4 linked regions of the Homo sapiens genome follow. The protein of the gene in region 2 interacts with the protein of the main gene of each other region in a biochemical or structural test. Each region holds a gene or a part of one and is shown on either strand. Other genes may lie near its edges.

The links.
Region 1: the proteins of NODAL (region 2) and ACVR2B form a complex in vitro, tested with the Homo sapiens proteins (one study listed by BioGRID).
Region 3: the proteins of NODAL (region 2) and ACVR1B form a complex in vitro, tested with the Homo sapiens proteins (one study listed by BioGRID).
Region 4: the proteins of NODAL (region 2) and ACVR2A form a complex in vitro, tested with the Homo sapiens proteins (one study listed by BioGRID).

What each region holds. Positions count from the first base shown.
Region 1 is NC_000003.12:38,477,697-38,485,424, forward strand, and holds part of ACVR2B (activin receptor type-2B precursor), read left to right. Parts: intron 1-164; coding exon 165-274; intron 275-444; coding exon 445-596; intron 597-678; coding exon 679-822; intron 823-1,431; coding exon 1,432-1,575; intron 1,576-1,981; coding exon 1,982-2,130; intron 2,131-3,654; coding exon 3,655-3,769; intron 3,770-4,501; coding exon 4,502-4,640; intron 4,641-4,733; coding exon 4,734-4,864; intron 4,865-5,441; coding exon 5,442-5,636; 3' UTR 5,637-7,728. UniProt on the Homo sapiens protein: Transmembrane serine/threonine kinase activin type-2 receptor forming an activin receptor complex with activin type-1 serine/threonine kinase receptors (ACVR1, ACVR1B or ACVR1c).
Region 2 is NC_000010.11:70,438,554-70,446,259, reverse strand, and holds the start of NODAL (nodal homolog isoform 1 preproprotein), read left to right. Parts: upstream 1-4,578; 5' UTR 4,579-4,592; coding exon 4,593-4,785; intron 4,786-7,706. UniProt on the Homo sapiens protein: Essential for mesoderm formation and axial patterning during embryonic development.
Region 3 is NC_000012.12:51,982,221-51,989,948, forward strand, and holds part of ACVR1B (activin receptor type-1B isoform a precursor), read left to right. Parts: intron 1-465; coding exon of another isoform or gene 466-588; intron 589-1,123; coding exon of another isoform or gene 1,124-1,128; exon of another isoform or gene 1,129-1,772; intron 1,773-1,778; coding exon 1,779-1,946; intron 1,947-2,971; coding exon 2,972-3,128; intron 3,129-4,597; coding exon 4,598-4,722; intron 4,723-7,728. UniProt on the Homo sapiens protein: Transmembrane serine/threonine kinase activin type-1 receptor forming an activin receptor complex with activin receptor type-2 (ACVR2A or ACVR2B).
Region 4 is NC_000002.12:147,910,420-147,918,147, forward strand, and holds part of ACVR2A (activin receptor type-2A isoform 1 precursor), read left to right. Parts: intron 1-4,771; coding exon 4,772-4,915; intron 4,916-6,863; coding exon 6,864-7,007; intron 7,008-7,728. UniProt on the Homo sapiens protein: On ligand binding, forms a receptor complex consisting of two type II and two type I transmembrane serine/threonine kinases.

The sequences.
Region 1 (7,728 bases), on a different chromosome or scaffold from region 2:
TGTTCTTCCTTGGCTTTGGGTCTCCTGTAGGGGAGGTGAGTTCACACCGTCCCCCTGGTGTTGCCCATGAGGTGCTCTGTCTGTGAGGAGGGGTTGGCAGGGCAGGCCTGGGGGAGTCTTGCATCCCCCAGGTGAGGGGTATATGGAAAATTCTGTGCCTCCAGGCAGGAGTGTGTGGCCACTGAGGAGAACCCCCAGGTGTACTTCTGCTGCTGTGAAGGCAACTTCTGCAACGAACGCTTCACTCATTTGCCAGAGGCTGGGGGCCCGGAAGGTAAGGGGGCAGTGTGGAAGTGGGGCCTTGAGTCAGCCGACCTGGGCTTCTTTGGCTTGGAGCGCTTGGCTCCTCAGTTGGGTGGGGTGTGGCTACAGGGCCCTGTAGTCTGGCTCTGGAAGTGTGAGGGTGGGCAGACTGTTTGACACAGGGCTCTGTGTGTCCCCCAGTCACGTACGAGCCACCCCCGACAGCCCCCACCCTGCTCACGGTGCTGGCCTACTCACTGCTGCCCATCGGGGGCCTTTCCCTCATCGTCCTGCTGGCCTTTTGGATGTACCGGCATCGCAAGCCCCCCTACGGTCATGTGGACATCCATGAGGTGAGACAGTGCTGGCTTGGGGCAGGGCAGGATAGAGGTGGGGAGGACAGGCCAGACCTTTTTAAGCCTTGCTCTCCCCCAGGACCCTGGGCCTCCACCACCATCCCCTCTGGTGGGCCTGAAGCCACTGCAGCTGCTGGAGATCAAGGCTCGGGGGCGCTTTGGCTGTGTCTGGAAGGCCCAGCTCATGAATGACTTTGTAGCTGTCAAGATCTTCCCACTCCAGGTGAGTGTTTGAGGGGCTCCATCCAGGTCCTCTGCCTCCACTGTAGCTTGAACTGGAGGCTCTCCTGACCTGGGGCAATCCAAACCCCAAATAATATTGTGGTATGAGAGAAAAGTGAGCCTTACTGGGCCTAGTTACTCATGTTACACTTGGCTGGTCTGTAGATTTCATGCAACTATGGAATTTTATCATAGGACTAGGGTAGGGCTTTGCAAAACCTTGATTTGCCCCGGTTACCAGGGTTTTGTTTTTGACATTGGGTTCTTTCCAGCGGCCCTGGACACCAGGTCTGGCTCTGCCTCATTTGTTGGGTGATACGGGGTCACTCACACCCCATGCATGGACCTTAGTGGCCCCATTTGTAAATCGAAGTGCTAGCCTTAAGTGATCTCAGGGATCACTGTTGGCCTCATGCTCTGGGGCCTAGCTTAATACAGGTCTTCTCCTGGTCCCCTTACAAATGCTGAAGCTGGGAGGCTGGGGGGTGGGGATTGGGCTGGGAGGCTTGAGGGTGGGGAATGGGGAATGGTTGTTCTGCTGTAGGGCAATGTGACTGCAGCAGGGCTAAGCCAGCCACTTGTCCCCCCAACCCCTCGCCCCCGGCCTCAGGACAAGCAGTCGTGGCAGAGTGAACGGGAGATCTTCAGCACACCTGGCATGAAGCACGAGAACCTGCTACAGTTCATTGCTGCCGAGAAGCGAGGCTCCAACCTCGAAGTAGAGCTGTGGCTCATCACGGCCTTCCATGACAAGGTGAGCCACACCCATCAGAATGGACTCTGAGAGGAGATGGAATGTCCCCTTGGTGGCTCTCCATAATATGATGACCCCTTCCCTGTGGAGGTGTCCACCATGAAGTACTCTGCCCCGGTAGCACTATCCACTATGGGGTTACTCCTGCCATAGGTGTGGACATTGGTTCCCCTATGATAGGAACCTCTCACCCTGGGATAAGTTTTTATGATAAGAGTAGTGACTCCATGATTCCCACCCCTAGCCCTCCCTGCCTCCTGGCCTCATCCATCTTCCATATCGATTGTAGTAGCCTTCCAGGAGAGCAGCCTAGCCATTGGCCCACTGAGACTTCTCTGCCAGGGCTGGGCTGGGTCCTGTCCTGTACCCAGAATCTGTGCTCAAGTTCTGTGCTGTCTTCTCTCAGGGCTCCCTCACGGATTACCTCAAGGGGAACATCATCACATGGAACGAACTGTGTCATGTAGCAGAGACGATGTCACGAGGCCTCTCATACCTGCATGAGGATGTGCCCTGGTGCCGTGGCGAGGGCCACAAGCCGTCTATTGCCCACAGGTACCTGGGTCAGCAGGTGCCTTTCCTGCACTTGACCTGGAGCTGTGGGAAGGGTTGGTGGGCGAGAGCAGTGTCTGGAGATGTCTCAACTTCCTAAACATACTTACCCTGCTTGCTGTGTGTCCGAGGCAGCTGGGCACAAAACCTGGCCTTCCCACTGTGTCCTGGGGATGGCATGGCCTCCCAAGCTGGTTTTTGGTGCCCTCTAATGGCCACATGAAGTGCTGACTCCATTACTTTGGTTGGAGAGTTGGCTCAGTAGTTCTCAAATTTTCTAGTTTAGGATCCCTTTATACTCTTAAAATGACTTTTGTGTAAGTGGATTATGACTATTGATATTTGCTGTATTTGAGCACACCCACACATCCCATTCGCTGTCAGAGTGAGGACATCACATCTCATGTAGCCTCGGGAAAACTCTATGCTCCTAAGAGAATGAGCCTTATAAAAGCAAATAAATGAAAATAATTTTGACTTTATAGATTCCCTTGGAACAGTCTTAGAGATCTTCTGGGGTCCTCGAACCACCCTTTAAGAAACTCTGGATGAGCTCATCACTGTCATGCTTACTAAATGGCAGGCAGTGCTCTAAACACTTGAGAAGTATCAATTCATTTGACCTTCATTACCGCCCATTGAGACAAGTACTGTATTTCTCAGCTCTGTCTTGCAGATGGAGGAACAGTAGTACAGAGAAGTTGAATGACTTAGCCAAGGTCTTGTAGCTAGTTGAGTCTGGTTCTGTGACTGTGAGGGAGGGGAATGAACCTCAAATTCCAGCGTTCAAAGCTGAAGGGTCCCTGATGGTAATAACAGTAATGACATAGAAGGTAGACTGTATGAAATTGCCGTTTTTATAGGTCAAAAGGTTGAATGTTGTCTCTGCTATATGGCTCAACTTAATAGGAATACCTAGTAAGTATGCCAGGTGTGGCCCTAAACATTTGCACTTACCACTCAGTCGAATCCTCACAAGGCTGAGACAGGCACTGGGGAAACTGAGTACCACAAGTAGCTTTGCTTAGTTAGAGGTGGAGCTGGGTGCATGCAATAGCACCCTTGCTCCAGCCGGCCTTCATGGTGAGCTTGAGACCCTAAGGGGTCTCTGCAGGATCCTAGGAAAGCTAATATTAAATTCCTATTCTCATTCACATTCCAAATGCTGTAAATTCTTCTCAGAAAACTTGCATCCCAGGCCAGTGTGCCTGTCCACAACCCCTCTGAGAATATATGGGCTGGCCTTTGATAGTGTGGGGACTGGGACAGGGTCTGCCCAGCCATTAGGGTAGGTGTTGCTTTGCCAACCCTGGGGGAAGCCTTCCATCTGAAGTGCACTGAGGGATTCTCACACCCATGTCGGCGCCTGCAGCTGCCTGCTTGTGCTGCTTCACCTCTGCACCCCAGGTAGGGTGGGATGGCCTGGTCTGGGGCCTGACTCTAGGGCACAGACTCTAGTATCTTGGGAACCAAGGTGGGAGTTGGATCATGATGTTAAGCTTTATCTCTGCCCACTTGTTTCCACAGGGACTTTAAAAGTAAGAATGTATTGCTGAAGAGCGACCTCACAGCCGTGCTGGCTGACTTTGGCTTGGCTGTTCGATTTGAGCCAGGGAAACCTCCAGGGGACACCCACGGACAGGTAACAGGCCTCACAGGGCAGGAAGAGAGGGACAGACCCAGGGTAGATACTTTGCCCTTTTTGTGCTCAGCTGGGGAGGTGCAGGGATGAGGGTGACTGCATGCGTTCAGAGCTGTCTGAGAACTTAGAGCAATGCTCTTGTTTGACCAGTGGAGAAACCAAGACCAGGAAGGCAGTGTAGTTTAGCTTCCGTAGGACAGTCAGCTGGGAAATGTAGAGATTCCCCACTGGGGTTTTGACCACTAGTCCTTGCAATCTTAGTCTTTCTCTCACTTTTTTAGTTTTAATTCCTAAGACAAAACAAAGAAATGTACTAAGGATCCAAACAAAGAACCTGGAAAAAGTAACTAAAAATTAAACTTAGGAAATCATTCCTAAAACAATCACTGTTATTATTTTTTAAGTGTTCTCCTTCCCTCTTTGTTTTTGGTCTTAATCTCAGTCAGATACATATCATCTGTAGTTCCTTGTATTAATTTGGTAACAATTCCATTTTAGATTACTATTATCTCCAGGATATAGTATTTAAAAATTATTAGCCAAGTATAATTGATGCTGTGACCTCTTGTAACTGTTGTGAATGTGGTGAATCGAGGTTTGCTATCATTGATAACCTGTCTGAATTGCTCTGTCTTGCCCGCCATCTGGTGCACAGAGGCTGTAACTCCCATGTCCCAGCTGTGTGTGTATGGCCAGTCACTGTAAATCCTGCCCTCCTCTGTCCTCACATAGGTAGGCACGAGACGGTACATGGCTCCTGAGGTGCTCGAGGGAGCCATCAACTTCCAGAGAGATGCCTTCCTGCGCATTGACATGTATGCCATGGGGTTGGTGCTGTGGGAGCTTGTGTCTCGCTGCAAGGCTGCAGACGGTAAGTAGGATGGCAGCCCTGGGCATCCTAGATTGAGTGATAGGGAGCAGTGGGACCTTAGAGTGATCCTGCCAGGCTCTCTCTTTCTCCTAGGACCCGTGGATGAGTACATGCTGCCCTTTGAGGAAGAGATTGGCCAGCACCCTTCGTTGGAGGAGCTGCAGGAGGTGGTGGTGCACAAGAAGATGAGGCCCACCATTAAAGATCACTGGTTGAAACACCCGGTAAGGGGCCTGGTTCAGGCAACTTTGCAGGGGGGTGGAGAAGGGAAAACCCTTCATGTGTAGCAGGTAAGCTGAAATCAAGGGGGAATGGGCAAATAGAAAGTCTGCGACGTTCCCTGGACTCTAGGGATGTGTTCCAGGGGTTATGGGGAGTGAGGTAGGATGATGTCCTTCTCCTGATCCCCACTTTGACTGAACTGCTACATTTTGGGCACTTGTATGGTTTGGGCTTCCAATAAGATTTTGTTTGAATATCAGCACTTCAAGGCAAGTAGTGGTGTCTATCCTAGTAGGGGCCTTGGTGTCTCCTTCTCCCTCCTGTGTATGTTGAGGTTCAATGAACCTTTCCTAGGGCTGTGGAGTGAGGCCAGTAAGCTCAGAAAGATGACTGCCATGAAGGCAGGCATGCTGATTCCTGAAGTTTTCCCCAGGCCTCTGCTGGTGGACCTGCTGCTGTGGTTGGGGCTGGTGGGCTCTGCCTGATCCTTGGGAATATCAAGTTTACTGTCCCCCAAAGCTTTTCCTCACTGAAGGGTCCTAACAAAGGTGTCTTTCCTGTCTGCCCTATGCTGCTTAGGGCCTGGCCCAGCTTTGTGTGACCATCGAGGAGTGCTGGGACCATGATGCAGAGGCTCGCTTGTCCGCGGGCTGTGTGGAGGAGCGGGTGTCCCTGATTCGGAGGTCGGTCAACGGCACTACCTCGGACTGTCTCGTTTCCCTGGTGACCTCTGTCACCAATGTGGACCTGCCCCCTAAAGAGTCAAGCATCTAAGCCCAGGACATGAGTGTCTGTCCAGACTCAGTGGATCTGAAGAAAAAAGGAAAAAAAGTTGTGTTTTGTTTTGGAAATCCCATAAAACCAACAAACACATAAAATGCAGCTGCTATTTTACCTTGACTTTTTATTATTATTATTATAATTATTATAATTATTATTATTAATATTATTTTTTGGATTGGATCAGTTTTTACCAGCATATTGCTCTACTGTATCACAAACAGCGGACACGTCAGCAGGCGTTGAGGTGCTGAGCTGTGGATGCAGAACCAGCGCCATGCTGAAGAGCCTCAGCCACCTCCTGTCCTTTGGGATTCGTTTTTCCCGCTTTCTCTTTGTTTGTCGTCTCAGAATCTGTGACACAAAGAAACCCATCTCCTGTCTTAGGAAACCTAATGCTGCAAACTCTACCTAGAGGAACCTTTGAAGACTGTTACATAAGAACATACCTTCCTCAGAAGAGGAGTTTCCTCTGCCCTCTGCCCTTCTCCCCTGCCTCCCTCCCTCCCCTCCTTTTATTTTGTTTTAGTGAGCTTAAGAAACAGCAGATGTGTCTTTCACGGATCTAACGGGTGTTGTCCTGATCGAGAAAAAAACTGGGATGAGAATGGTTTGGACTGGAGTTGGAAGGGGAGGACGGTACTGGGGGTAGGGTTTGGAACAGAGCTACACTGGACTCGGGCACATTCGGAGCAGCATCCTTTAGTATGGAGGCTACTTCTCAGGTAACCAGGAATTGAGGGGAAGGACCTTGTGGAGGCCGAGCATTAACAGCAAGAGCGGGGTTTGGAGAAAGTCTGAGATTGGGTGCAGCCCTGACTTACCTGCTGGCCCTGACCAGTTTCTTTTCACTAACTTGGCCTTGGGCATAGGATGAAACATTTTTTCTGCCCTAATTTTAAAACTAGGTGAGGGTAGAATCATCACAGGTTAGGAATACATTCTTCATAAGACACGATGCTGTAAATACCCTTAATGGACGAAAAGTTGAAATACTTTTGTTTCCTCTTGGAGCAGTTCAGGGAAATGCCCACAGGGGATTGTCCTGCACAGATAGGGCAAGAGGATTTCCTGGGTGGAGTCTGCCAAGGCCTGCCTCGCTGGGGACCCCAGAGTCCTGCACCTCTGGTTCCGCCCCAGGTGGTGACATTACTGTCCCCGTTCTGTGGCTCGTGGACAAGACTTTCTCCAGACCCCTTAAAGTGGTACATATTCTAAAAAACTGTTTTTCTATTATGCCATAACCTTGCTCTAGTCAGTGAATGTTCCTAATGCTGCTGTTTCAACATTTGAATTCTTTTTAATTTATGAAACATGCTAAATTTTTTTTTTCAAACAAAACACACACATCCACATATACACATGCTTCGCTATGTGGCTTCCAAGGTTTAAATTTTGAAAAGTAAAAGAATTAAAACTTCACGACCACAGATCACCTCAAACCAGAAATACCTCAGAATTTTCTACTTATGTAAGGTTTATTATATATTTTGTTAGTTGTGTTGTCTTGTAGTAAGTATATTTTAATGTAAGTTGGCTTTTGTGACAAGGAAGTTTAAAAGAAATAGAGAAAAAGAAAAAAGTTTGCATCTTCTAGGGAGTGCTACCATTTTTGTTTGATAACGCCCCCTTGTAAATAATTGTCATCAACTGTAGGTTGGCTGTCTGGGCCAAGTCTGGGCATTTATCAGTCTTGTTTGTGAAGGCTTTTCCTTCTGGTTTCTTTAGATCATTTTATTTAAAAACAGTGCATCTCTTCATCGTGAGGGTAGGCAAGGCGGGGGCCGTGGGGAGAGGTTGACCTGGGTGAGAACTGAAGAGGCCGCCTCCTCTTGGGTTGTTTGGAGCTTCACATGTAATTCACATGTAACATGTAACTTGATCGGTCAGTGTTCAGAATGACAAGTAACCCCGCTTAAACTTGGTAGAAGGATGGCCCTTAGACCTGAATGGGGTGATTTTACTTGGGATTTAACTTCTTCAGCAAATTAACAGCAACGTTGGAAGAGATCTGTGGCGCCTCTGTGAAGCACACCGTGACTCAGGCCAGTCTTTTAGTGCAGCGTGTCTGGGAGTGAAGGGTTTT
Region 2 (7,706 bases):
AACCTCAAGGGACTTTGCCCCCACCCTCTTGCCAGCTGGGATGGCCTCAAAGGTTATCTCCCAGGTCAGGGAATCTGACGGTCAGTCTGTCTGGGCAGAGGAAACGAGAAGGTGTCATTCCTCACCTGGAAAAAGGGCACTTCTGGTCTTTCTTATATGAAAGAGATCCTGGACTAACTAATGTCTTTAAAAAGTGAGGGTGACTGTTAGCCTCGGTCCTAAAAAAGCAACAGAGATTCAGGTTCTTCCAGGGATAGTGCCAGAGCCCAAGAAAGTTCAGAGATGGATGAGCTTTGTCAGACAGTTGCTCTTGCGGGTCAGAGAGAAATTCCAGGCCTCCACAGGGCTCTAAGCCAATACACATCAGAAATGAGCTGTCTGCAGCTGTTGGACCCTGGGAAAGGCAAGACGTTATTTGAGAGTTTTTTTAAAAGTCTTAGTACAAGGCACATTTTCACTCCTCTTCTATGGGGAAGCAACGGGTTTGGGTGACAAGCAGACTGACCCTTCACATACTGGCTGTTTCCACTTGTAAATTTGTGGCTTTGGGCAAATTATCTGAGCTTCTGTTTTCTCATCGTCTCTGAAGTGGGGATGAGGATAAAATCAATGCAATTATTAGCAGAATGTCTGGTGCATTAGGTGCTCAATAAATGTTAGCTATGGTTATTATTATTCATTTTACCTTAAACAGTGAGCGCCGGCCAGGCGCGGTGGCTCATGCCTGTAATCCCAGCACTTTGGGAGGCCAAGGCGGGTGGATCACAAGATCAGGAGATCGAGACCATCCTGGCTAACACGGTGAAACCCCATCTCTACTGAAAAATACAAAAAATTAGCCGGGCGTGGTGGGGGGCGCCTGTAGTCCCAGCTATTCAGGATACTGAGGCAGGAGAATGGCGTGAACCCAGGAGGCGGAGTTTGCAGTGAGCCGAGATGGCACCACTGCACTCTAGTCTGGGCGACAGAGCGAGACTCCGTCTCAAAAAATTAATTAATTAATTAATTAAAAATTAAAAAAAAGAAGCTTCTGGTCCAGCATGGAAAGCATGCCATCTTTTTTGTTCCTTCCCAGTCTCAGTGGATGAGGGTGCTCTGAGCTGAGCTGAGCATGTTTAAACAGGGACCACCTACACACTAGGCCACATGGTGATTTGGTAGACCTGGGTTCTGGAATTGGCTTCACTGCGTCTGACTCCTGCACCTCCATCTAGTTGTCTGTGCCTTCCCTGTGCTGCCATCCTTGGAACCTGAGTCCTGGTCAGAGGCTCCCACAGCACAAACCACAACCTGTCATTGTTGTATTTATATGTGCATGACCTGGATGAGGGTGCCTTCTGCCTCTGGGGAGGGGTCTGACACAGAGGGCTGAGGCTGAGTCTCTAGGCTGGGGAAGTCAGATGACAACCATGGACCACCCACAATAATACCCGCATGCATCATCCTCTACGGTGACATCAGGTTTTAGAGCTTGTAAAGCATTTTTACATTCATTTCGTTTAGTCTACATGGGAGGAGTAATCTCTAGACAAGTTTTGCAGATGAGGAAACAATGTAGAGAGGTGGGTTACAAACTGCAACAAGAACCCTAGCCCATGTGGGTCCCAAAGTTGGCTGATCAGAATCACTGGAGGGCCAGGCTCATGCCTGTAATCCCAGCACTTATGGAGGCCAAGGCGGGCAGATCACTCGAGGTCAGGAGTTCGAGACCAAGATGGTGAAACTCCTGTCTCTACTAACAGTACAAAAATTTAGCCAGGCGTGGTGGCATGTGCCTGTAATTCCAGCTACTGAGGCAGAAATTACAGCTACTGAGGCAGGAGAATCACTTGAACCCAGGAGGTAGAGGCTGCAATGAACCGAGATTGTGTAACTGCACTCTAGCCTGGGTGACAAAGTGAAACCCTGTCTCAAAAAAAAAAAAAAAAAAGTATCACTGGAGTGCTTGTGAAATATGTAGATGACCATGCCCTCTCACCAAATTCTAAATCTGAAGGTCTGGGTCTGGACTTGAGAATCAATAGTTTGGCCGGGCGCAGTGGTTCACGCCTGTAATCCCAGCACTTTGGGAGGCTGAGGCGGGTGGATCGCCTGAGGTCAGGTGTTTAAGACCAGCCTGGGCAGCATAGCAAAACCCCATCTCTAATAAAAATACAAATTTTAGCCGGGCATGGTGGTGGGGACCTGTAATCCCACCTACTCGGGAGGCTGAAGCAGAAGAATTGCTTGAACCGGGGAGGCAGAGGTTGCAGTGAGCCAAGGTCGTGCCATTGCACTCTAGCCTGGGCGACAAGAGCAAAACTACATCTCAAAAAAAAAAAAAAAAGGGGAGTCAACAGTTTAACAAACACCAAGGTGATGCGTATCTTCAGGCAAGTTCAGACATAGTGCCATTCACTGAATTTTTTTTTTATTTTTTTGAGACGGAGTTTCACTCTTGTTGCCCAGGCTGGAGTGCAATGGCGCAATCTTGACCCACTGCAACCTCCGCCTCCTGGGTTCAAGCGATGCTCCTGCCTCAGCCTCCCGAGTAGCTGGGATTACAGGCATGTGCCACCACGCCCAGCTAATTTTGTATTTTTGGTAGAGACAGGGTTTCTCCATGTTGGTCAAGCTGGTCTCAAACCCCCGACCTCAGGTGATCTTCCCACCTCAGCCTCCCAAAGTGCTAGGATTACAGGCGTGAGCCACTGCGTCTGGCCTCACTGAATTATTTACTTGTTTTTATTTTTTTTTTTTAAAGAGGGTCTTGCTATGTTGACCAGACTGGTCTCAAACTCCTGGCCTCAAGCTATCCTCCAGCCTTGGCCTCCCATGTGTTGGGATTACAGGCATGAACCACCACACCTGGCCTGAATTATTTACTTAACACAGATTTTTTGGGTTCCAACGATGATGATGGTATATACTGTGTGACAGCAGGATGAACAAGACATTTCCAGCTTTAGGAAACTAACAGACTGTCCAGGGCTCATGTGGTGGACAGCCCAGGTCTCCTGAATCTTAGATGAGGCCTCCAGCTATGTGGGACAGCCTCCTCCCCTAAGACAGAGGACAAAGGCTTGGAGCTCCTAGTTGAGCCTGCTGGGCCTTTCTCCATTTTCTAACAACCTGCTCAGGTCGCAGCCTATGGTTCTTTTGTTGTTGTTGTTGTTGTTGTTGTTTTGTTTTTTGAGACAGGGACTCACTCGGTTGCCCAGACTGGAGTGCAGTGGCCCGATCTTGGCTTATTGCAACCTTTGCCTCCCAGGCTCAAGCAATCCTCCCACTTCAGCCTCCAGAGGAGCTGGGACTACAGGCGCACACCACAAAAATGCCTGGCTCATTTTTGTATTTTTGGGTAGAGACAGGGTTTCACCATGTTGACCAGGCTGGTCTTGAACTCCTGAGCTCAGGTATCTGCCAGCCTCATCCTCCCTAAGTGCTGAAATTACAGGTGTGAGCCACCGTGCCTGGCCAGCAGCCTATGGTTCTTTTGAGCTAGAGGCATCCTGTGAAAGAAGTCAGGTGTATAGAGCACTTAGCACTATGCCTGGCGCTTAGTAAGTGTTCAGTAAGTGTTGGCCAGCAGCTAAGTGCTTGTCAAGGCTAGGTAGGTGGGGGGAGCTAAGAAGAGAAAGAGCCCTCAGGTGTAAAGGAAAACGGATGGGGCCAGACACTGGGGCAGGGATTTACATTTCTTTAAAAGTCATTCCAGCCCTGATTTGACTTTGCACCTGGAAGGGAGGAGGCCAGACAAGATCACTCTTGTGCAAATAAGGAAAGCTGAGCCCAGAGATCAAAGTGAGTGGCCCTGAGCCGACACCCAGGTCTTCTGTGGCCCTGCCACACCAGGCAGGGATTGGGGGATGTGGGCAACAAGGGTAACACCTTTCCTCCTGAAATCACTGGGGTGATGTCTGCCTGTCGGGGAAGAGCCTGATGAACCAGGATCACCCCGTTGGCTCCATCTGGCTCCAGCTTCTGCTGAACACTCCCTTTTCAGGTGGAGAAGTCATCGTCCTGGTCCCTCCTGCCTTCTGTCTTCCCCAGGAAAGCACTTCAGTATTTGGTAGGGCCAGGGGTGCTCCCCGAGGCCATCTAGACAGTGGCCAGGGAGGCTGCGCCGGCCAGATTGTGTCAAAGTCTGCCTGAGAGCCACGAGGATCCCTCGGCATTCTCTTCCTGCTTCTTGAGGAGCCTGCGGTCCATTTGCAGCCTGAGTGGAGAGGATGGGGCAGGGATCCCAGGTGAGGTCGAGTAAGGAAGTCGCAGTTCTGACCTGGGAATCTGCCGGGACAAGCCTGCTCTGTCTCAGCATCAAGGCGTTTGGTACCTAGAGGAGCAGGGTGCCAGGGTGTCCAGACCGGGCAAACCAGGAGCCCTAGATCCCGTCCCTGGAACTAGGTCCTCCGCCAGCTTTGCGGGCCTCCTCCGCACCAGGCTCAGGTCTCGCCCATCCCCAGCAGGAGGTCTCTCTGCCCCCCACCCTCCGGAGGGGGGTTATATGATCTTAAAGCTTCCCCAGAGGGAGGAAAGGTGGGGGCGGGGCGGCTGCTGAGGCCCAGGATATAAGGGCTGGAGGTGCTGCTTTCAGGCCTGGCCAGCCCACCATGCACGCCCACTGCCTGCCCTTCCTTCTGCACGCCTGGTGGGCCCTACTCCAGGCGGGTGCTGCGACGGTGGCCACTGCGCTCCTGCGTACGCGGGGGCAGCCCTCGTCGCCATCCCCTCTGGCGTACATGCTGAGCCTCTACCGCGACCCGCTGCCGAGGGCAGACATCATCCGCAGCCTACAGGCAGAAGGTAGGCAGTGCCGCGTGCCGCGCCCTGCTGGGCACCCCCGGGGCGCCTCCGCCGCGTCCAGCCAGCGGACTCGGGAAGTGCTGTGGGTTGGGGGCTGCGGCTCCGAGCCGGGTTTGCAGCCGCCCGGGCGTCCCGAGCCCAGGGCCTAGCTCTGCGGGTGTCTCCGCGTCAGCAGGCTCGGGGTGCAGCGTTGGTGGCTGGGGGCGTATCCACGGCCGAGTCGGGAAGGGATTCTAGCGTTCAGGGTGTGTCCTCGACGGGGACCATTGTCTCTGGGTTTTGGTTTGGGATTGCGCGGAGCGCAGCGCGGAAGGGTGGGAGCTTCTAATCTCCAGTCTTGTGAAGTTGCTTATCCCGGAGCCTGGGTCTGCGCATCTGTAGGATAGGTGTAATAAATAACACCTCGCCTATCAGACTGTGGAAAGCGCGAGATGACAATGCGCGCGAAACGCTCAGCGCAGTACCCGGCACAGCCACAGTCAACGGTCGTTGGTATTACTGTAATGGTTTGGTCTTGGCGATTTTTTTTTCTTTCTGCGAGTGAGGGTGAATGGGTCCCGGGGTGTGACGTCGGGAGTATCGGCAGCTGAGCTGGTAACATCGGGGATTCGGGCTCACGGCCCGGAGATCAGGGATGGGCTGTCCCGAAGTCGCGAACTGTGGCAGCCTTGGGTCCTCCAGCCGCGCCGGGGAAGTGTCAAGTGTCTCGCTTAACCCCGGGTTCGGGGCCATGATTTGCAGGGGAGTGGGTGTCAAGGACGGCAGGGATCTGAGGGTATCGCCCTCGAGGACCTGGCAGCGCGTTCTGGGCACCCAGCGCGGCGAGCAGGTGGGTGCTGCGGAGAGGGAGCCCCTTCCGCGCCTCAATCCACATTCTGCCGCCTGGGCAGCCGCGGCCGCCCACGCCTCCCTCCGCCTGCGGGGGCCAGACGGCCCTCCCTGGGGCCGGGGCGCAATCCACAAACGCTAATCTGATCCGACCTGCCGCCTGCCCGCCCCTTGTGACCTGGTGCCGGGGGCCCTTCGCTCCCGCGCCTGGGGTCAGACAGCCGGTGACCCTCTCCGGAAGGGTCATCTGGGGACCAGCCAGACCAGGGGACACCCTCGGGGGCGGGGCAATGAGAAATTTGCTGGAGTGCTCGGCCCCTCAACCGAAAAGCGGCCGGGGATGGGAGGGGGCAAAGAAGGGAGGGAGCGCTTTTCCAGTTCACTCCCTTCTGGAAAGTTCGAGATGTGTGCGGTGATGGACAGGCATCTGGAAACTGGGTTCTAGGCCTCAAATCCTGCTTCCTGATTCCCTGTTGTCCCTGGCGCGTCTTGGTTTATCTGCCTTCCCTTCTGTAAATTAGGAGACTGCTCTCTTTCAGCTAAACACTGTTTTTTTGTTTGTTTGTTTTTTCTTTGAAACAGAGTCTCCCTCTGTTGCCCAGGCTGGAGTGCAGTGACACGATTTCGGCTCACTGCAACCTCCGCCTCCCAGGTTCAAGGAATTCTCCTGCCTCAGCCTCCCGAGTAACTGAGACTACAGGCGCGCGCCACTGCGCCCAGCTATTTTTTAATATTTTTAGTAGACACAGAGTTTCACCATATTGGCCAGGCTGGTCTCGCCTGGTCTCGTGGTCCGCCTGCCTCGGCCTCCCAAGGTGTTGGGATTACAGGCGTGAGCCACTGTGACCGGCCTAAACACTGTTTTTTAGTGTACAGCGGCATGTGGCACAGTTACGTTGTGAATTGGCCTCATTTTCTAAGAGCAGTGGGAAGAGCCCGCCTGGAGGGAGACTGGAGGAGAAGGGATGTCCTGGCCCCACTCCTTCCATCTTGGGTTTATTTAGAATAAGCTGCACCGCAGTTGCATGAAAGGGATGTTGGAGTCCAATTGGGTTTACATCTGTATCTGTTGCCGTTTAACCTTCACCTTGGACCTTCAGTTTTCTCATCTGCAAATGGTGAGATGAGAGGAACAGTGAGGAGATTTAGAGAATGCCTGTGAAACACTTGGCACACGGGAAGCCACTGATGGTAACGACCCTTATAATTTATGAAAATGTAGAGTGGGTGCTCAGTGTCAGGTCCTTACAGCCCTGCCTCACAGCCCTGTCTGGGGACGGCGGTGTCGGTGACTGGAAGGGAACCCAAGGGTGTGAGCCACTTTCTTCTTCAGAACTGGAGGTGGGGCCGGGCACAGTGGCTTACGCCTGTAACCCAGCACTTCGGGAGGCCGAGGTGGTCGGATCATGAGGTCAAGAGATCAAGACCGTCCTGCCCAACATGATGAAACCCTGTCTCTACTAAAAATACAAAAATTAGCTGGGCATGGTGGCGCGCACCTGTAGTCCCAGCTACTCGGGAGGGTGAGGCAGGAGAATCACTTGAACCCAGGAGGTGGAGGCTGCAGTGAGCTGAGATCGCACCACTGCACTCGAGCCTGGCCACAGAGCGAGACTCCATCTCAAAAAAAAGAACTGGAGGTGGGCCAGGAGGACATCAGGGGCATCTGTGTGGCTAAGTCTGCATTCAGCATATGAATGGGTTTTTGGGTGTCCATGAACCCCTTCCTCATACCCACCTTAAAATCACATTTGTTGTATTTGGATGTGTGTTTCTTTCTGATAACATTCCTACCTTGCATCAGGCACCAGTGACACCCACAATATTAGAACCCTTATTCTAAGATGAACCAGAGAACCTATCAGCCCTGTTCCAGGGCACCCTGGCAGCAGTGGGAGAAGGTAGGAAGGGTCACAGACTTCTTTCAGCAGGAAGGAGCAGCCTCTTCCCTACCCAGCCTTTCCCACTGCCCATCCTGTTCATAGGAAACTTTGCACCCCTGTCCAGGTCCTTGTGGCCTGTCCGGACACCTTCATTTCTAACTCTCGGACCTGGGCAATAATGAGGCAGCTGATGATGGCCAATGTTTATTG
Region 3 (7,728 bases), on a different chromosome or scaffold from region 2:
GGAAGAGCACTGCAGACATGTGCAAAGGTGAGGTTTGGGGCCCAGCAAGTAACTTGGATGGCTGTGGGTGGAGAGGGAGGCAGAGGCCAGATTATGAGGGGCCTTTTTGAGAGGATTGTATTCCATTCTGAAGATAGTGGGTAGTAATTAAAATTTCATTCATTAATTCTATAACATTTATTGACTGCTGTGGGCCAGACCTCTGCTGGCTGCTTGGACCATCACACATAAGAGCAAGACACAGTCCCTCCCCTCACAGAGCTCCCAGGAAGAAGGGGACAGACACGTGGACAGGTAGTGGCACCCGGAGCACAGAGAGGATGCTGTGAGTGGCTGGTTCACATTGTGGAAGGGTCTCTCTAGCAGTTGTGACATGACTTGCTCCTGTGGCATGGTGCAATTTAGAAGTTAGTGTCTACAAAGCCTACAGAAGATGCTATTTGTTTTTCATTCCTGAAACAACAGCAGACTGCTCATTCCTCACATTGCCATGGGAAGTTGTAATGGTCTCTGCTGCCCCCAAGCTGAGGAGCCTTAGACTCCAATACAAGGGAGGAAGGGGAAGAGCAAGATTTTTATTCCCACTGAGTAAGCTATTCCTTTTTAAAACTATCACCTTTTGATAAAATTTAAATCTTATATGTTTTAAAAGGATCAAATCATGTCTTCTCTTTGAACTTGTTAGCAGGGTCCTCAGGACTTTGGGGCTGGTTAGAGTGCGAGAAGCAGTGTGTTGGGTGGGCCCCTTGTTTGTGATAAGAGAAGCCAAGATGTGTGTGTTTCCAGGATCCATCCCTTTATTGATTCTGGCAGCTTGTGTGAGTAGGGATCTGGCTTTCAAAACCCACCTTAAGGCCAGGGAAGGGAAACAATCAGACTCCCTCGTTCTTGCCTTTTTAACATGGGGTATATATAGTATGGTGCCCTGGAATCAGCGCCAGCCTGGAATTTTGGAGATTTCAACTCAATTTCCAGTCTTCCAATTGACAACGGCATGGCTTAATTCGATTCCTGGCTTTGGTGTTTCTTTTTCTCCCTCCTCCTGCTCTCCTCCTTCCTGCTGTCCCTAGTGTAAAAGAGAAAATAAAGTGTATGCACTCTACCTTCCATTGCTCCTCTGAAGGATGAGATGCCTTTCTGGGAATACTTGGAAGTGGTCTATTCATGCACTGAAAAGCATTTTTTGGCCTGGAATCCAATAATCCATAAAGGAGATCTTTCCTACTCACAGAGATATCATAGCCTGGTAAGAACAACAGACTGAAAAGAAACATTACAGATGAGACAGGTGCTGTGTTTGGGCTGTGTTCAGAGGGTCGCTGGGACACAGGAGGCCCTCCAAGGCTTTCCTGTTTGGTGGTGGTAGATCCAGCTCATTGTGGTTCTCCCGTGCAGATGAGCAAGTCTTGGTCAGGATCAAAGCAGTGCTGCACACAAAGCTGGTGATAGCTGTTACCTTCCCCAGGCATATGCCTCCTCTTTCCTGAGTACCTCACATTTCAAATTTGACATAATGTTCAGAATCCTACAGTTCACCTAAAGGAAATCAGGAGCAGTCCTAAGAAAGAAATGGTGTTCCCCTGTCCTTACTGAGGTCCCAAACTGGTAGACCACTATAAATGAAAGGATGCTAGATGGGGCTTCAGGGGGCATGGAGGTGGGAAATGTGAATTCAGGAGTCTAACCTGATTTTGTGTTGTATACACTCATCCTTACCAACCTTCACTGTTTTGCTGATAGTTACACTTTTTCTGGGACTCATCTGTGGTTCTCTGCAGATAATGGCACCTGGACACAGCTGTGGCTTGTTTCTGACTATCATGAGCACGGGTCCCTGTTTGATTATCTGAACCGGTACACAGTGACAATTGAGGGGATGATTAAGCTGGCCTTGTCTGCTGCTAGTGGGCTGGCACACCTGCACATGGAGATCGTGGGCACCCAAGGTGAGTGGACTAGCGCAGGAGCGGCGAAGTGGTGTAGGCATGAAAGGTCCGCAGTGTCCTGATTTAGTTCCTAGAATTCCTTTTTACTGAGGAAGTTGGGGCTGGACCTCAGGAACTCTAGTTTAATTTAAAGGAAAGGAGGTTTGAGCTTCACTTAAGTGAGGTATCTACAGGGTGTTCCCTTCACCTCTGTCTTGATAGAACTCCCTCAGGAACCCTATAATATCAATATTCAGCTACTTGTCAATCAGTGGCTTGACATAGTCATTTGTTACGAAGGAGTAATCATCTTAGAATCCCACAATAGACATGAGAAAAAATGGAACTAAAAAGATAAACCAGTGTACTGGGAACATCAGTTTAGTGATTTCCATGTTCATTGATGGGGACAGCTGGCTTAAAGGCCACTTGGTGGATTAGATTCTGGGCCTTACTAATCTGGGAAGGTTTTCCTGGAGGAAGAAGACCTGAAGCTCTGCTACTTGTTGATTATCATGTCGGCTCTTTGGGAGATCCTGGATCTTGTCACAATGGCAGGTGTGATCCCTGATGCCTGGTTGACCAGGGCCACAATGGAAAATCACCCGTGAAAGTTGGATCCTATTCCTATAGCCTGTGCGGTGCCAGTTCTCATCATCGGGCCTGTTTCCTTCTGAGAACTAGGCATTGCAGCAACTTCCCTTCAGTCCCTCAGCACTTCTGTACCTGAGCATATTTGCTCAGGGAAGGCGAGTAGTAGTAGTAAATATTAATACAAATATTAGCTAAATACACATGTCCTTCTATGGTCGTAACTTAGCTACATGAATGCATTTAATCCTCACAACAGTCCCATGAAATAAGTAGTCATTCTGATTTTATGGATGAGAAGACTGAGGTACAGAGGGCTAAAGTCACTTTTCCAGGGTCACTGGATTAGCAGGAGGCAAAGCCAGGACTCAAACCTATACAGTCTGGCTGCATAGTCTATGCTTTTAACATTTATATCATCTCTTTGTAAAGATCCCTGTTTTTTTCTCTGCCAGGGAAGCCTGGAATTGCTCATCGAGACTTAAAGTCAAAGAACATTCTGGTGAAGAAAAATGGCATGTGTGCCATAGCAGACCTGGGCCTGGCTGTCCGTCATGATGCAGTCACTGACACCATTGACATTGCCCCGAATCAGAGGGTGGGGACCAAACGGTAGGAGGGCCTGGGACTCTGCCCTTGCTAAGCAGCTTCTACTGAGTATCCCATCTGTGCCGTTTCCCATATGCGCAGGAGAAGGAGGTGTTGAAAAAGGAGGCGAGGACCTTGCTCTCAGCCCACTGAAAGTTGAATTGAACATGCACTCCCCACAATGGAAAGTTGCATCACTGCATCTAACAGATACAAGTGCTGAGAGCACAGCTCCATAAACTGTATGCACATTGGTGTTGGTGGTATTAAGGTCGGAGGGTAGAGAAGGACAATCTAGAGCAGGATTTAGAAGGATAGCAGGCAACAGGTGTGGCTCGGGAAAGAGGGAAAACACTGTCATCTCCTGTGCAGAGAGCTGTGAAGGAGGCAGGGAGCATGTGCTTAGGGACTGGAGACCAGATTTGCCAAACTATAGCAAAGGTAACCCAGGATAGAGATTTGGGGCACCCTTCAAGATTATGGGCCTGCTTCCCACTTCATGCAGAAGTGAGGTAAGAAGTAAGGAGCTGTGATTGCAAATTGACTTCATGAGTTGGAAATGGGACTGCCTTTTAATAGAGTGGAAGAGGTGGAAATCTGCTGAATCTAAATGAATTTAATTAAGATTATCCCCTGATTTATTGTGGGGGCTGGGGTGGCTGGAATCATAGTAATTACTCATAATTACTACTCAGAGTCATTAAGGGTGCCGCTGACCACCTCTAGAATTAATTTTGACATATCTATAGTCAGGTAAGATAACAAAAGCAGTTCGGAATGAAACTTAAGCTCAACCCATCACTGTGACTACATTCAATAAAGTGAAGGACCCTGGTGTCAACCAAATATTAGGTACTGTTACTGCCCCTGTGACCCACATTACAAGTACTTCTGCCAAGAAGTCAAAACATGCTTCAAATAAACAAATCTTTACTCTCTCTTTGTTTTTTTGATATGGAGTTTCGCTCTTGTTGCCCAAGCTGGAGTGCAATGGCACAGTCATGGCTCACTGCAGCCTCCGCCTCCCGGGTTCAAGTGATTCTCCTGCCTCAGCCTCCCGAGTAGCTGGGATTACAGGCGCCTGCCACCATGCCTGGCTAATTTTTTGTATTTGTAATAGAGATGGGGTTTCGCGATGTTGGCCAGGCTGGTCTCCAACTCCTGCCCTCAGGTGATCCGCCCACCTTGGCCTCCCAAAGTGCTGGGATTACAGGCGTGAGCCACCGCACCTGGCCAAATAAACAAATCTTGATGGTTAAAAATAGAGATACACATCAGAGTAGCCTGGTATTGCCAAATCTGTGCTGAAGTATTTAGAATCAAATTTAAAACATGGGAGTTTGCAATGAAGAGATGTGTACACTTCTTCTGCCCCAAGGGACTTTATCAGGGTGATACTCTTCCACATTCAGAGGGCTCCTGAATCAATACTTTGATTTAAAGAGAGCAGTCATCATTTTCTGTGCGTGACCATGTTTGTTTTGCTATTGCAGATACATGGCCCCTGAAGTACTTGATGAAACCATTAATATGAAACACTTTGACTCCTTTAAATGTGCTGATATTTATGCCCTCGGGCTTGTATATTGGGAGATTGCTCGAAGATGCAATTCTGGAGGTACCTTTCTTTTTTGCCTTTGCTCCTACCTCCCATTCCAGGATGCTGGATCACCCAAAGCTGTTTTACTGCCCCCTTTCTTTTTACAACCTGTTGGATGCCTGTTGCCAGAGCCTGAATCATCGTTTAAGGTTGCCATCAAAGGTGTGGAGGTAGCTGTGCTTAGGGTGCGTTTATTCTTCAGGGATCAGTTTGTTGAATAGCGTTGTGTGTTATGGTAACCATTCTGAAGGCTCGTTTGGCTTTATAAACAAACAAACATTGTTTTATTAGTCCGTGGCGGGGAGTGCCCCGGTGCGCATAGCACGGGATTCATGCAGTGGTCTCCTTCACATCAGAAGCAGTATATTCTAACGCGGTGGCTCCCAAGCCACATTCATGGGAAACCCTGCTGTTTCATTGTTAAAATAATAGTGCTAATTTCTAAATTTATAAAAGTGCATAGATTTTTCTTAAAAGTGAGTTTTTTCTCCCATAGTTAAAAATCGTTGGCATTTGCAGCTGCTTATTCATGACAGAATCCAGTAAGAAATAGTATCAGATTTAGCAGAAACACTTTTTATTGTCAACTTAGTATATCAGTATTTTATGATAATTTCCATATATTCTGCCACATGATCAAGTTCCAGGACCTCTAGAGCCCTACTCTCAGCCATTTATCTGTGATATAAGAGATTCCAGGGCAGTGAAAGTGATTGAAAAAAAGAACTGGTGGTGCTCACTTCGCCAGCACATATACTAAAATTGGAACAATACAGAGAAGGTTAGCATGGCCCCTGCACAAGGATGACATGCAAATTCCTGAAGCGTTCCATATTTTTTAAAGACCTAGTATTTGATAGCACCACAGGGTGACTATAGTCAATAATATAATTGTACATTTTAAAATAACTGAAAGAATATAATTAGATTGTTTGTAACACAGTGTAAATGCTTGAAGGGATGGATATCCCATTTTCCCTGATGTGATTATTATGCATTGCATGCCTGTATCAAAACATCTCATGTACCCCATAAGTATATACATCTACTGTGTTCCCACAAAAATTAAAAATTAAAAAAATCTAATCTACAAAAAATATGACAAGTCTTCCAGCAGAACTGTTTTGTATATTAATACCCTTTTCCAGCTTCCATTTATGACATGTTTGGTAAAATCCAAATTATGGAAATAGTGCCCAGGTAGTATTCATGGAATTGTACCTCTTAAATTTTGATCAGTATATGCAGTAAAACAGACTAAGAGGCCAGGCGCAGTGGCTCACGCTTGTAATCCCCAGCACTTTGGGAGGCCAAGGCAGGCGGATCACGAGGTCAAGAGATCGAGACCATCCTGGCCAACATGGTGAAACCCTGTCTCTACTAAAAATACAAAAATTAGCAGGGCATGGTGGTGCACGCCTGTAGTCCCAGCTACTTGGGAGGCTGAGGCAGGAGAACGCTTGAACCCTGGAGGCGGAGTTTGCAGTGAGCCAAGATCGAGCCACTGCATTGCAGCCTTGCGACAGAGCGAGACTCCATCTCAAAGAAAAAACAAACAAACTAAGAAAAATCTGGTCACACAGGTCTTAAACTGTGAATAAGTTTATTTCTTCTTATGACATCCAGAAATTGAGGCTAAATATATAATAATGCTAACATTTATTCACCACTTGCTATGTATAAGCTCATTTAATCTTTACTACTACAAGTAAATAATAAGTAGGTGCTATTATCATCGCCATTTTACAAATGAAGAAAATGAGTCACAGAGAAGTTAGGAAATTTGTCTAAGGTCACATAACTATTTTAGTAAACAAGGGTTCAGACTCGGACAGGCTGAGGCCAGGGCTTAAGCCTGTAACTACCCCTTAGATAATTACCAAGTCCAATTCTCTATTTAAAAATATTTCCCAGGCTGGGCACTGTGTCACACCTGTAATCCCAGCACTTTGAGAGGCCAGGGTGGGCTGATTACCTGAGGCCAGGAGTTTGAGACCAGCTTGGGCTACATGGTGAAACTCTATCTTTACAAAAATAAAAAAATTAGCCAGACATAAAGGCCAGGCATGGTGGCTCACGCCTGTAATCCCAGCACTTTGGGAGGCCAAGGTGGGCGGATCACCTGGGAGTTCGAGACCAGCCTGGCCAATGTGAAGCCCTATCTCTATTAAAAATACAAAAATTAGCCGGGTGTAGTGGCGGGCGCCTGTAATCTCAGCTACTCAGGAGGTTGAGGTAGGAGAGACTCCATCTCTACTTAAAAGAAAAAAAATTGTCTCATTAGCTCAAGACAGCAGGGTTTTTTTGTTTTGTTTTGTTTTTCTTTTTCTGGAAAAGGGCTTGAGAAAAATTAATTGGCTTTTTATTTTTATTTTTTTGAGAGAGGGTTTCTCTTTGTCACCCAGGCTGTATTGCCATGGCACAATCTTAGCTCACTGCAACCTCCGCCTCCTGGGTTCAAGCCAGTCTCCTGCCTCAGCCTCCCGAGTAGCTGGGATTACAGGTGCCCACCACCACTGCGGGCTGATTTTTCTGTTTTTAGTAGTGATGGGGCTTCATTGTGTTGGCCAGGCTGGTCTCGAACTCCTGACCTCAGGTGGTCCACCTGCCTTAGCCTCCCAAAGTGCTAGGATTATAAGCGTGAGCCACTGTGCCTGGCCTAAATTGGCTTTTTAAAACTATCTTTTTATTATGGAAAATCTTTCTAAGTTTGTAGTTCTTAAAGATGAGGACTTAAAAAAATGCAGTGCTATTACCACACTTTAAAAAATGAACATTAGGCCGGGCGCGGTGGCTCATGCCTGTAATCTCAGCACTTTTGGAGGCCGAGGTGGGCTGATCACAAGGTCAGGAGTTTGCAACCAGTCTGGCCAACATAGTGAAACCCCGTCTGTACTAAAAATACAAAAAAATTGCCAGGTATGGTAGCGTACGCCTGTAGTCCCAGCTACTTGGGAGGCTGAGGAAGGAGAATCACGTGAACCAAGGAAGTGGAAGTTGCAGCAAGCCGAGATCGTGCCACTG
Region 4 (7,728 bases), on a different chromosome or scaffold from region 2:
ATTTTACTCTGGAGTACTGGATAAGATGTTTTGATAGTAGGATTATCTCAGCCTTTTGGATGAATTATAAATACTCTTGAATCATTATCACAGGAAGAAAATCTAGAAGGAAGAAAACTAGTTAAGCAACTGGTACAGATAAATGAGTTGTCCATTCTGTTTTGTCAGTGCTATTGTTCTCTATAGAAATATTGGAAACTGGGGAACATAGCCATCATCCATTGGAGGAATTCTCAGCCTTCCCTACCACTGGTGATCATATTTCTTTTAATTTTAAATTTAGACCCTTACCTATTTTGGGATGACTGGAAAAATGAAAATCCTGTTCTCTATCAGTGTCTGAGTGTCTTTAGAATGTGAGATGTGTGATTACTTGTTCCCAGGGCCACCTCTGCTTAACTGCTTCACCTTGATGTGCTGGGCAAGTAGGTTTGATAATATTCTGTCACTATGTTTTACTTAATTCTGATGATCTTGTTTTCCTGTCTTAGTTTCTTGCCATGGTGTATTATGGTGCACGCACATAGCCACCAGAAACATTTTTCTGTCTCACCATTATGATTCTGTCTTCCATGAAAGGGAAGTGAGGCAGTTCAGGAAATAGGAAATTCTAGAGGTTCTTAAGACAACTATCAGAAAGTCTGAGAAACTGATTTCTAGCTATATATAAATTTGTTAGGGCTGCTAGCTCGTTTTTGCTAAAGGCAATACTGCCCTCTAGTGTCGAGAAGGCAATTCCAATTTGTAAATTCCTTGTTTTATAATTTAGACTCTAGAGGCTCTTAGAAAAATAAATAATCATTATTTAAGACTTGATTTAGTTTGTTTGCAGGCATGAAGTCATTGGATCAGTTAACTTGGGATTAAACTGGAGTCAAGAATTTGTTTACCACCTATCTCTCATATCTAAGGGGTTCTTTTTGATATTACTTTCCTCTGTTTGTAAGGAAAGTGTTCCCTATCTTTATTTAAACAATGTAAAACTTTGGATCATTGCCAACTTTTAAAATACTAAACCATTATTCTCTTTCCTTCACTTTTGTAACTGATGTGTCATTTTTCATTTCATTCTGGATATGAATCGTAATTTCTTTTGCCTGTGTTTTTTCTTCACAAGCACGCCTTTCATATAATGATAGAGGTAAGATGCATTGATGTTTGTTTTATGGTTGTGGAACTTTCTGTGGATGCATACTAAACATTTTGTTCTTAGATTTTTGTTGTTGTTACTGCTTTACTGTGCATCCTCTATAATTTATATATTTATGTCATAAAGGGTTCTCCCTCACCCAGCTTTTATAATTAAAATGTGATTGATTTGACTTAGGAATGGCTTTTAGTTTTAAGAGACTGAGAGTATTTATATTTATTTAAGGTAGGATGTAGAAAAAACCGTTTTACTTGATTAGAAGTTAACACCTTAACGGCTCCATTCGCCTCAAAAACCTTGTATTGGTTAATTTTTATATGTCATTAGCTTAAATGTCAGCATGTGTTCATTTTTAACAGGGGTCGATTTTCTAATCCAGCCCATTGTATTTAAATGTGAAATAGATATTTTTAGATAGCTTCATCTTTGGCATCTTTAGCAAATGAACTAGCTACAGGAGTATAACTTTTGATGATATTTTGCTATCTGAGGTTTAAGCGTTTAATTAGATTAAAATTCACCCTTCAAATGGAGAACTCAGAATAAGTAAAATGATCAGAGATGACTTTGTAGCTTCCCACCTCTAATAATTTATTCCACTGTTGGTTATAGTAATGATATTGGGTAGTGGTTTGGGGGCAGGAGATTACTTTTTACCAGGTTATCATTTCAGTATGTGTTCTGAAGCTGATGTCTTCTGATACCATAATTTTTACATATAAATGAGTAAAGAAGAAATGTAATCAGAACTGTGTTTGAATGCATATCTTTTTAGTTTTGCAAAATAGCATGGATGTTGTAAGAGAACTGGAAATTTAGGGAAGTTTTTAGGAATTCTGAAATCCTTCTAGGTGCCTCTCAGCTCCCCATTGGTTTCTCTATGTAGCCAGGTAAAGCCATATTTTGTGTATGACATCAGAAATTGCTTGTCATTTTGAAATTTATGTCTACATTTGTCTTCCCAGGGGCTCATATATTTTAAAGGTATACATTTTTATTTTTAGAATCAAGTATTGATTTTTTTGTGAATAAATTACTATAATGATGCCAATTAATTGAAAATCATTTCTACTATTATAGGATGAGTGAAACTTACAGATGAATTTAAAGTTTCATTCTAGTAATTTTTTATTTAAAAAGGATTAGAGATTTTATAATCTGTCCTACAGTTATCATTTTTGAACCCAATCCTTTGTGTATTAAAGAATATTATTTAAAATTCCATTTTTGAAAAGCTCATGTCATTGCTAAAGGTTTTGAGATTCTACAGGAAGACCTTGTAGACCTTTTTGTCACCCTTTCGAAATTGACCAGTATTCTTTCTAATTGAAGCTTTTACCTTTTAAGTAATTTTGACAACAATATTTGTTCTGGCTGTTACTATACAATATTGAATAAATTATAGTAGGAGGGTGATCTAAGATTATTTCTTTCTGAAATAATGATAGCTTAGAAACTTGTTAAACAGAGCCTTGGGAATGTATGGGAACTTGAAGTATATGCATTTGGAAAACATTTAATGAACTTTTTTTTTTAATGTAGATATTAAAAATTATTTTTTCTAAAATTAATGTTATACTAAAATCATAGTTTGAATTGCTGACATATTAATTGTGGATTAAATAATCTATATCTTACAGACTGAATCATATTCATGTTGTTGATGTCCTTTAGAACAGAGAATGGGTAATGTGTAGATTAACTATAGAGACATTACCAGTGTACATAAAAGCTATTAAAAATCTTAATATTGTAATTTAGCACTGTATTCCCTCTACCTAGTTATTTTTCCTCTTCAGCTTTCAGCCATTTTCTGTATACTTTAGTTTTTAGTTTTTGGCATCCCCTCTGGTTTGAAACCTATCTCTCTACCTTTCTAACATTTTCTATTTAGTTTAAATATGTCTTTATGCAGTTATACAATAACTCTTTGCCCTTGAGGACTGAATGGTTTCCTTTCCTGTAGAAGAGTTGTTTTCAAGCTTTTTTTCTCTTGTCTCCACATTCATATAAGCAGTCTGCTCTGATCAGTAGAATTTCTCGGATAGAGGTGATCACTTGAAGAATGAGGGAGGGAGGGTGTAGTTTTTAATAAAAACTCTCTAGAGGTTCTTGTGTCCCCTCCACTGAGAATCACACTTGAGAGCCCATCCTTCCTATAAGATTTATATCTGACCTCCTTGACCCGTCACTCTGCTAAACAGAAACGTTCTTTCATGTTTTGAATGTGGGAAGGACAAGCAACTTGTAGACAAAAAAAAAAAAAAAAAAAAAAAAAAAAAGTCTGAGTTTGAAATGAGTCACAAGAAGTCTTTTGTTTTATCTTACTGTTTAAACAGGAATTCTAAAGCCATTTTATAAAGATGGTTTCATTTAGAAGAAGAAATTGCATGTTTTTCCTACATAACACCTTGCAATGTTTCTGTTGCTGAGGTTCTTTCTAGTACACAGTAAACTTTTAAAACTCCTGAGTGGCACCAGTGAGCTGAGTGATGCCTAAAGAAAGCACTAACTGTCTTTGAGGCATTAGAAGAAGAGAGAAAAAGAAAGGCAGAGAGGATGCATTGATCTGGGATCACATACCATTTCCAAGTGTCTGAGGTGCCACCCAGTGTCATCATATCAGTTGCTTTTGCCACAGAAATTTTAGTTCCTCCTCAAAATACTCATTATGCAGCCCTCCAAACCCTTCTGTTGCTTTTCTCTGGAAGCTTTCCAAAAGGCTTCCTGCATCTTGCTTTAGTTGCAGATAGGGAACTGAGAGAATGCTTTCAATGGAGGGTTGCATTCTGCTTTGATAGGATTTCCTTGTGATTTGTAGATGCTGTATTCCTATTTATATATTATGTTTGCTCTATTTTTAAAAAACTATAGCAGTGCACGTTTCTTTCATTTACCATATCCTGTTATCTACTATGATGACCACTTCTTTTCTGGATTTTTATTCGTACTTCTTTGCCAGTCAGTCAGTTCCAGAACACAAATGATTTTTTATCTCAGATCAAAGGGATGAATTGTTAATATGTTTAAAATTAGAATGAACCAGTTTGGTTAAAGAAATATTTACTTACATATTTCCTGTATGTGCTTTGTATTTGATATACCTATCTGCAATGTGTTTAAGAATGACTGCCGGTATCTCTGAGATTAATGAAGAAAAAATTTAAACAGTCACTGGAGAAAGTAATAGATCTTCAGGAGAGGTTTTTGCTGATATATAGTCATAATTTGCTGTTTCTGGCACTTTTCAAATCATCCTCCTCGAAGTACACACTGGATGAAACAAATGAAATATTGTTAGGAGTATTTCGTAGTTCACAGAAAATCTTAGTGGGGAATATTACTGAGACTGATCAGAAAGATTTTAGATCTTCTCTCCTGTGGTACATATATAGCAATAATGCTGAACATTATTATGAAACTCTGAATTCAGGTTGCCTGCCTTGTGATCACTATAGATAATTAGTAATCTAATTATGGCAACATTGAAGTTAATGTCATTCATATGTGTTTACTGTTTCTGTCAGTTGACTTTTCAGTATACTCACTTTTTTTCTCATTTTCAGAGTTGGTGTGTGTCATGTTCTGCTTATTTATAGTATTATTATTATTTATCTGTAGGACCCAGGACCACCCCCACCTTCTCCATTACTAGGTTTGAAACCACTGCAGTTATTAGAAGTGAAAGCAAGGGGAAGATTTGGTTGTGTCTGGAAAGCCCAGTTGCTTAACGAATATGTGGCTGTCAAAATATTTCCAATACAGGTATGTTTATTGCAGTTTTGTCATCTTACATACATGTTTTATGGCTAGGTCATCATAACTCAGAAATAGTCTCAAAACAGAAGCCATATGTACCAAGGTGGTTCTTTGTGATACTGGGGAAAGCAGTTAGCTCTTTTAATGCCTGCCTTTGCATCTGAGAAATGGAATTGTTAATATAACAATCATTATGTTTGTCTGGAGTGGTGGAATTAAATGAATGCATAGTAGATCTTTTGCCAGTGAAAATTCTAATAGAAATGTTAAATAAAGATAAAGATTCCAATAAACAAGTCTAATTGAGTGGTTAAATTTTAATATCCCCCTACGTTGTCAGAGAAAGCAAACAAAAAAACAAAAGAGCAGTATACTTTGTTTTAGAATTGGTATTTAGAGGTATATCACCAGACTTGACTTACTTTCATTCTACTTTGAGTGTTTAATTATTTCAGTTTTTGTTTGATGCATTTTCAGAGGCAATCGAGACTTCAAATAATTGGTTTACTGTTGAATTGTTTTTAAGGTTGGCTGGACTTCTCATAAAACTCTGATCTAATGTACCTCTGAGCTATTCTTGTGTTTTGTTTTGTTCCGTTGGTGGTATAGATTTATGATGATTCTGTCTTCCCCATCTCTTGCTTATATACCCTGGCAGCTCATGATACCCTTGGTACTGACGTCTTGGCTGGATTTGGTGTTGCAGGCTCTACCACCATACTTAGAGAGTGGATGTTTCTTTTTCCAAAGTTATCATATAAGCAGTTTCTTTGTCTTAATATACCTAGATTTTAACCTTTTTACCTCCTCTGTTCAATCTTACCTCCTCTGTTCAGTCTATAAACTGTTTACATAGAGTTTATGAACTGTATTACATTTTTTTTTGGTAGCTGTAAACCACAGTTTAGTTTTCAGAGAGAAAGTGTATTCTGTTGTGCCAAGATTCATAAATAAGATAAGGGAAGAAATTATTTCCATGTGTAAGGAAGCATAAAGCTCAGAGAAAGGCATTTGGATGATATTAACAAGCCCGACAACAGCAACAACAGTAGCTAACATTTTATTGTATGCTTTTATTGGGTCAGGTAGGGGTGTTTTACATATATGAGTACTCACTAATATGTGTACGTATATTACCCACATGTACATAAAATGCAACATATAATACAACAATTCTATAAGACAGACACTACAATGCCTTTTCTACTTAATGAGGACACTGAAGGATTATGTAACTTGCCAGAGGTTAGTGGGAGAGCCAGGATTTAAGTTTGGACAGTTTGGATGCAGAGAGTTTCTAAGGGTTTCTAACCATTATGCCATAGTGCCTCTTACTATTATTGTCTTTTAGTAGTGAAAAGAAGCTAATCTTTTATAAGTAGATACTTAGTAGACATGGATTGCTTGCAGGCACAAGTGAATATATGGTGTCTTAAATTATTGCATTGCATATCTTTGCCCCTTGCTTTCTCATAGACCTTGTAGGGTATGCTAAACATTTTTTGAAGGATGTTTGATATTATGTTAGTTTTTGAAAAGAAGAAGTTTTCTATTTAGAGGAAGTCATTCTGCCGGAATTTCATCTTTCAAGGAGATTATTCTGAATAGTACCACAAGTAACTTCACACCATGATGAAATTACAGTGTAATACTTGCAGTAACTTACGTGTTGCCATTGTAAGACACAGAATGCAGCATTTCCGATCACCTTCTGTGTTTGTAAACTAGAAACACAGAAAAGTACGTTTTGAGGGAATGAAAAGGGCAGGCATTTAGTATAAATTTGTTAACCTATTGTCAGAGCTTTTTCTTATTACAAAACAGAACAAAAAATTTTTTAAGACTTTTTTGTTTTGTTTTGTTTTACTTTGGAACTTATTTGAGTAATCTCTTATGCATGGTTTATTAAACCTGTATTCCTTGTGTTCTTACTATTCTTTCTTTTTGACTCTAGGACAAACAGTCATGGCAAAATGAATACGAAGTCTACAGTTTGCCTGGAATGAAGCATGAGAACATATTACAGTTCATTGGTGCAGAAAAACGAGGCACCAGTGTTGATGTGGATCTTTGGCTGATCACAGCATTTCATGAAAAGGTAAAACTACTTAACGTTTTACTTTAGTAAAGTCTGAGTTGGCCTGCCTACCTAATGCTGGCTATAAATCCCTCAGAGTTATTTTTCGAGACATCTTATAGTTGATTAATATTTAACCTGAAAATAAAAATCATTCTTGAATAAAAATGTTTTAAAAGGTAGTTTATTTTAATAAAAGAGCAAAGATGGCAACTTTTTAACCTAAAACTCTACTCATATAAACCACCCTTTTGTTCCTTATTTCTTGTGCTGTAATTACTCTTACAAACATTTATTTTAGTGTAGGTAATGCTTAGTAATTTTCATTTACCATTTACAATTCATTTTGATTACGTGAACCATTTTTTTAAGTTTTAATCAGTCTTGCTTGTGACAAAACCAGAGTCAGGAAATTTATCTGATCTTTGATCTGTCACTAACTTGCAGGGTAATTATCACCAAAATGTAATTGCTAGTTTTCCTCAATTTTTCTACTTTTAGAGTCAGTGTGAAAGTACCATTAATGAAGTAGGAAATTATGTTTTTGGTAATTGGTTTCATCATTGTGAAATGTAAGTGGTTCTTTTACTTCTCTTATCTTGACCTAAAGGACAACAATAATCTAGAGGAATATTCTACATATTAGTTGTTATTTTATGTTGTTATTTTGTGTTCTGCTAGTCCCATGATATAACAACTCTATAGTCAGGATATTTTAACTTTTAAAATATTTTCTAGAACC